Regions from separate parts of the Homo sapiens genome. Here region 1 is linked to region 2. The links come from fine-mapping of genetic effects on gene expression. A gene starts in region 2. The other region holds a variant in brackets. All regions are shown on one strand. Distances are between the middles of the regions. Region 1 holds the start of HECTD2-AS1 (HECTD2 antisense RNA 1). Region 2 holds the start of FGFBP3 (fibroblast growth factor binding protein 3).

Evidence for each region.
Region 1: its variant is fine-mapped to the expression of FGFBP3 in tibial artery (GTEx, PIP 0.98).

Annotation. Positions count from the first base shown.
Region 1 is chr10:91,611,375-91,614,190 of GRCh38, reverse strand. It overlaps HECTD2-AS1 (HECTD2 antisense RNA 1), which reads left to right and starts at 2,731. Exons shown (of 5, transcript NR_024467.1): 1 at 2,731-2,816. The variant GTCAGGAGA/A (reference allele first, on the strand shown) is at 1,498.
Region 2 is chr10:91,908,236-91,911,051 of GRCh38, reverse strand. FGFBP3 (fibroblast growth factor binding protein 3) reads left to right here and starts at 1,566. Exons shown (of 2, transcript NM_152429.5): 1 at 1,566-1,654; 2 at 2,005-2,816. The coding sequence starts at 2,083. It overlaps FGFBP3-AS1 (FGFBP3 antisense RNA 1), which reads right to left. Exons shown (of 2, transcript NR_199602.1): 1 at 2,803-2,816; 2 at 1,704-2,155. RefSeq lists an enhancer at 1,926-2,220 and a silencer at 2,124-2,693.

The DNA of each region.
Region 1 (2,816 bases), 300 kb after region 2:
CAATAGGCACCTACACCACACTGCCTTTCTGACTCCTAGCACAGTATCCCAGCCCTTATTTATCTAAATGAACACCATCAAACCAGGGTGGAGACATCCTGCTGTCTTGGGAACAGTGTCAACAATTCCATTATATCACCATCTAGGTTTAGTGTGCTTGAAAACAATGATCAGGCCACACCTATGCCAAAAACTTCCTATCACAGCAACAAAAGATATCGATGCTCCATATCACAAAAGGATACAGTCATAACGATGGGCAGTGGGTGCTTCCGGCTATTTGTCAGTACAGCTTCTCACAGCCCCTCTGTCTCACTCATGCTCTGTCAATGGATTAATAGCTCAGGACAACTGTGTGTCCCATGAGTCAGAGGGGCTGGTGAGTCACATGCTTATGCCAATTCCTCCGGCAGATACTTTATCCCAGCCATTTATAATGCTGACCATTTATAATGCTGACCAGACTCAAAGTAACTAAAACCAGCTGTAACCAGAGACATGCACAGACTCAAGTGTCCAGTTATGTACTCTGTTGGATGATATGACCTTCAAAATTAATCTTTGGGTAAGCCCAGTCTATAAACTGCTTGTTCATATGTCTACTCTGGATTTATGATATACTCTCTTCCTTGTGGTAGCTGACACTCTCTGGCTCTGACTGTTTAGATCATGTGAAATCTGACTTACCATCTAGCCAGGATCTTGAGCTCATTGCTACCAAAGTCCTGACTAACAACTTTAAAAAAATGGAAAGAAACCCCCAAAGGAACTGCCTTGGTGGCAAATAACTGCACAGTTAGAGCTGCTGTGATGGAGACAGAGGTATCTGGAGGACTTTGGCTCCTGGGTGTTATGACAATCTTTGGTCCAGAGGGAATAATATCTTATAACCCTGTATTTATACATGGTATTAAAATGTCAAAGGCGAATTTTCTAGGTCTATTCTGTAATCTGATTCCAGGGCAATATGATCCCTTTGCTCTTCAGCTGACTTCTGTCTTATCATCTATGTCAAAGCTTAAGTGTCACCTTCTCAGAGTGGTCTTCTCTGACTACCCCATCTAAAATAGGTATTCCCAGCCATTCTCCCTCATTCATTATTATTTTTTAAGATTTTATTTATGAATTTAATGTAAATGCCATGAAATATATGCAAAATTCATGAAAGTTATGAACAAAACATTAACACTACTCAAGTTTTATGTGGTTTAATTTCACCAATATCCCCTGGGTTCCATGGGAGGGATTTCAGCATAACATAATTATTTTCAGTTCAACGCAAAAAAAAAAAAAAAGATTGACTGAGCTTCTACTACGTGGTAGGCACTGAATCTACAGAAGTAAGATATATTCCTGCCCTCTCTTTTCTCAAACTACACATAATATGGCCCTTGTTAGCCTTTCTAATATGGATTGAAAATCTATGTGTAGGCCGGGCACGGTGGCTCACGCCTGTAATCCCAGCACTTTGGGAGGCCGAGGCAGGGGGATCACGAG[GTCAGGAGA/A]TTGAGACCATCCTGGCTAACACGGTGAAACCCCGTCTCTACTAAAAAAAATACAAAAAAAATTAGCCGGGCGCTGTGGCAGGCGCCTGTAGTCGCAGCTACTCAGGAGGCTGAGGCAGGAGAATGGCGTGAACACGGGAAGCGGAGCTTGCAGTGAGCCGAGATCGCGCCACTGCATTCCAGCCTGGGCGACAGAGCGAGACTCCAACTCAAAAAAAAAAAAAAAAAAAAGAAAGAAAGAAAATCTATGTGTAAGTGTAATTCTGTGTTTTTTTTTTTTTTTTTTTTTTTGGCAGAGTCTTGCTCTGTTGCCCAGGCTGGAGTACAGTAGCATGATCACAGCTCACTGCAGCCTCAACCTCTTGGGCTCAAGTGATCCTCCTACCTCAGCTTCCCAGGTAGTTGGAACTATAGGCATGTGCCACCATATTTGGCTAATTTTTAATTTTTTGTAGAGATGGGGTCTCACTACCTCATTCATTATTTCATCAAGTGTTGTTGGGTGCCTGTGAGGTGCCTGGATCCCTCAGGGAACTTACGTTTACTGAGCATTTATTAATGTGACAGGCGCTATGTTAAGAGTTTTGTTTACATTTTCTCATTTCGTCCTATGAGGTATGTACTGTTATCATCACCATTTTACAAATAAGGAAGCTGAGGCACAGAGAGGCGAAGTAACCTGCCCAAGATCACACAGTTAATAAGGGGCAGAGCTGGGATTTGAGATCCAGAAGTGTGATCCTGAGCATGGGCATTTCCTCTCATAGCACCCTGTTCTTTTCCTTTCTCACACATCTCACAATTAGAATTCTATGTAATAGGGTGTGAGTGAGATTTTGTTCTGTTGTCTTGGAATGGCTGCCATTGCCCAAAGGTGACCCAGAAAGTGCTAAGCACTCTGGTTTTCTAAAGAGAGCTCTTAACCAGCCTTCAGCAATGCAGTGGCAGAACTGGCCTTAATACCACCAACCCTGCCCCTGTCCTGGGTCTGTAAGGAGAAGTCTGGGCTGGAATAAGGGGCTCAGAGTTTTCAGCCTGGAGGAGGTACAGAGTTCCTTGTGAGCATATTCCCAGGAGCAGGACCAGGAACAGGGGTTTTCCCTCCTCCAAGCCAAAGGAGAGTTGGGGGTGCTAAGGGGATCACTAATGTCATGTTTACTGGCTAGACATCTGCCTGGGCAGCAGTCCTGCTGTCAGCCCTGTCCCAGGAGAAGAGAAACATTGGAGAGAGAAGGCAGGGCTGAAATACGGTGTGGCCATGGCACAGGCTCCTTCCCACAGCTTGGCTCAGCAGGATGGTTAGATTTCCCA
Region 2 (2,816 bases):
TTTTTCACTTTTTAGCATGCTAAATATACATCTCAGTTTAAATATTCTGTTTAATGGCCATTTATAAATTCAAGCACTACCACTGGTCAGTTTTGTGTGATAGAATAAAAATATGTTACCTGCAGTGTAAGTATAGCACACTGTCAAATTCTTTTCCTTAAGGTGCACAGTAAATGTACAGATAGTTATAGGCCACTGTTTTTGCAATGTAGTACATTTCTAATCTATTATTCCTAACCTATTATAACTGTTTGCAGAGAGAAAATAATTGAATTTTTCTAATAATCTGTAAAATTATGCTAACTTCTACAAGTAGGCTTCTAAATAAAAATTTTAAAAAGAGCAAAAAAAAAAAAAAAGAAAGAAAAAACAGCTTTGCTTGGTCAGCACTTTGAGAGGCTGAGGCAGGTGGCTCATCTCAGGTCAGGAGTTCGATACCAGACTGGGCAACATGGTGAAACCCCTTCTCCACTAAAAATTAGCTGGGTGTTGTGGCAGGCACCTGTAATTCCAGCTACTGGGGAGGCTGAGGCAGGTGAATCGCTTGAACCGGGAAGGCAGAGGTTGCAGTGAGCCGAGATAGCACCACTGCGCTCCAGCCTGGGTGACAGAGTGAGCTCCCGTCTCAAAACAAACAAACAAACAAACAAACAAACAAACCCCCGCACACACACACAATCCCCCCCTCCAGAAAAAGCAGCTTTGCTTAAATGTAACATTTTCAAGATTCAAGAACACATTCATTCTCTCTCTCTTTTTTTTTTTTTTTGAGAGGCAGTCTCGCCCTGTCCCGGGTTCAAGTGATTCTCCTGCCTCAGCCTCCTGAGTAGCTGGGATTACAGGCATCTGCCACCACGCCTGGCTAATTTTTGTATTTTTAGTAGAGACGGGATTTCACCAGGCCAGGCTGGTCTCACATTCTTAACTATTATACCATTTCAATTGGTAATCTTACCGTTCAACTACTATAATACAAATAATTTTTTTAAACTTCTAATTTTTGGAGGACCCTTATAACTGATTTCTAATACCTAAAAATAATAAAAAGCCCAAATGTCCACTCCTGGGTGAACTGCTGGGCACTATTGTATGTTAATAAACTAGGATATTATATTTTTATTAGTAGTAACAATTATTAAGATTGAGAGTCTTAAGAAAGGCTATTGGAAATAATAGGTAAAAATGTAGAACTCAGAATATGAGAAATAGAATGTAAATGATATAATTGTGTAAAAAATGCCTAGTTTAGAATACTGAAGTTTGTTTTGTTTCATTTTATTTAACTTTTAAAACTTAGATCTTTTGTTTAATTTTTATTTTTTGGATGGTTAAGTACATGAAAGAAGAAAAACTTGGTTAATTTTGCCTGATTATTTTAAACATTGGAAGCAAAATACAAGATTTGTATTTCATACTACAGGACCGCTTCCATCATCCATCTGGAGAGACAGAGAGAGAGAGGGAGAGAGAGAGAGAAGCGCGGCGGTGATAAGTCTCCCAGTGTGAGAGAAATCGGGGAGGGGCGAAGAAGGGTAGGCCTCTTCTGTTCCATTGATACCACGTTCATTCACAGGGAGCCGGCTAAAACAGACTACTCCCCCGTGCAGTCGTTCCCTCTACCCTAATAAGGCTTTGGCGCCTCTCCCAGAACTCGGTAAGTTCAAAGTGTAGTAAAGTGCATGTTTCCAAGGAATCATCTGAAATGATTTTGTAGATAGTTTATTGCAGGTTGGAGAAGGGAGAAAATGAAGGAAGGGGTAGAGGGGGCAATTATCACGCATCGTTTTGCTATCGTATTTGCAAGGGGAAGAAAATCTCAATGCATACATGGTTCGAAAGTGATTATTTAGACAGTAAGCAGTTTCCCCAGGAAAGCTCCTCAGAGGGTCTCCTCGCAGGCTGCAGATTCTAGAAAGTCTGCGGAAGAGTAGTTCGCAGGTGCATGTGTCTGGGCGAAGCGCTGCGTGTGGCTCAGTTGGTGGCAGTCTCTGCCTCTGTCCGCAGGTCCTGGGGAATGCTCTTTGCCTGGTCCAGCCCCGACAAACGTGGTCTGAGAACAGCGGAGCGCGGAAACCGCGGAGCATGACTCCTCCGAAGCTGCGAGCGTCGCTGTCGCCGTCGCTGCTGCTGCTGCTGAGTGGTTGCCTCCTCGCGGCTGCTCGGAGGGAGAAAGGGGCGGCTAGCAACGTGGCGGAGCCGGTCCCCGGGCCCACTGGCGGCTCCTCGGGTCGCTTCCTCAGCCCCGAGCAGCACGCGTGCAGCTGGCAGCTCCTGCTGCCCGCCCCGGAGGCCGCAGCGGGCAGCGAGCTGGCGCTGCGCTGCCAGAGCCCGGACGGGGCGCGCCACCAGTGCGCCTACCGCGGGCATCCGGAGCGCTGCGCAGCCTACGCCGCTCGCCGCGCGCACTTCTGGAAGCAGGTGCTGGGAGGGCTGCGCAAGAAGCGGAGGCCCTGTCACGACCCCGCGCCGCTCCAGGCCCGCTTGTGCGCGGGCAAGAAGGGCCACGGCGCCGAGCTGCGGCTAGTGCCCCGCGCGTCCCCGCCCGCACGCCCCACCGTCGCGGGATTCGCGGGGGAGTCCAAGCCCCGGGCCCGGAACCGGGGGCGGACCCGGGAGCGTGCGTCCGGCCCAGCCGCTGGGACCCCGCCTCCCCAAAGCGCACCGCCCAAAGAAAACCCCTCAGAGAGGAAGACCAACGAGGGCAAGAGGAAGGCGGCCTTGGTCCCCAACGAGGAGCGACCCATGGGGACCGGGCCCGACCCCGACGGGCTGGACGGGAACGCGGAGCTCACGGAGACCTACTGCGCTGAGAAGTG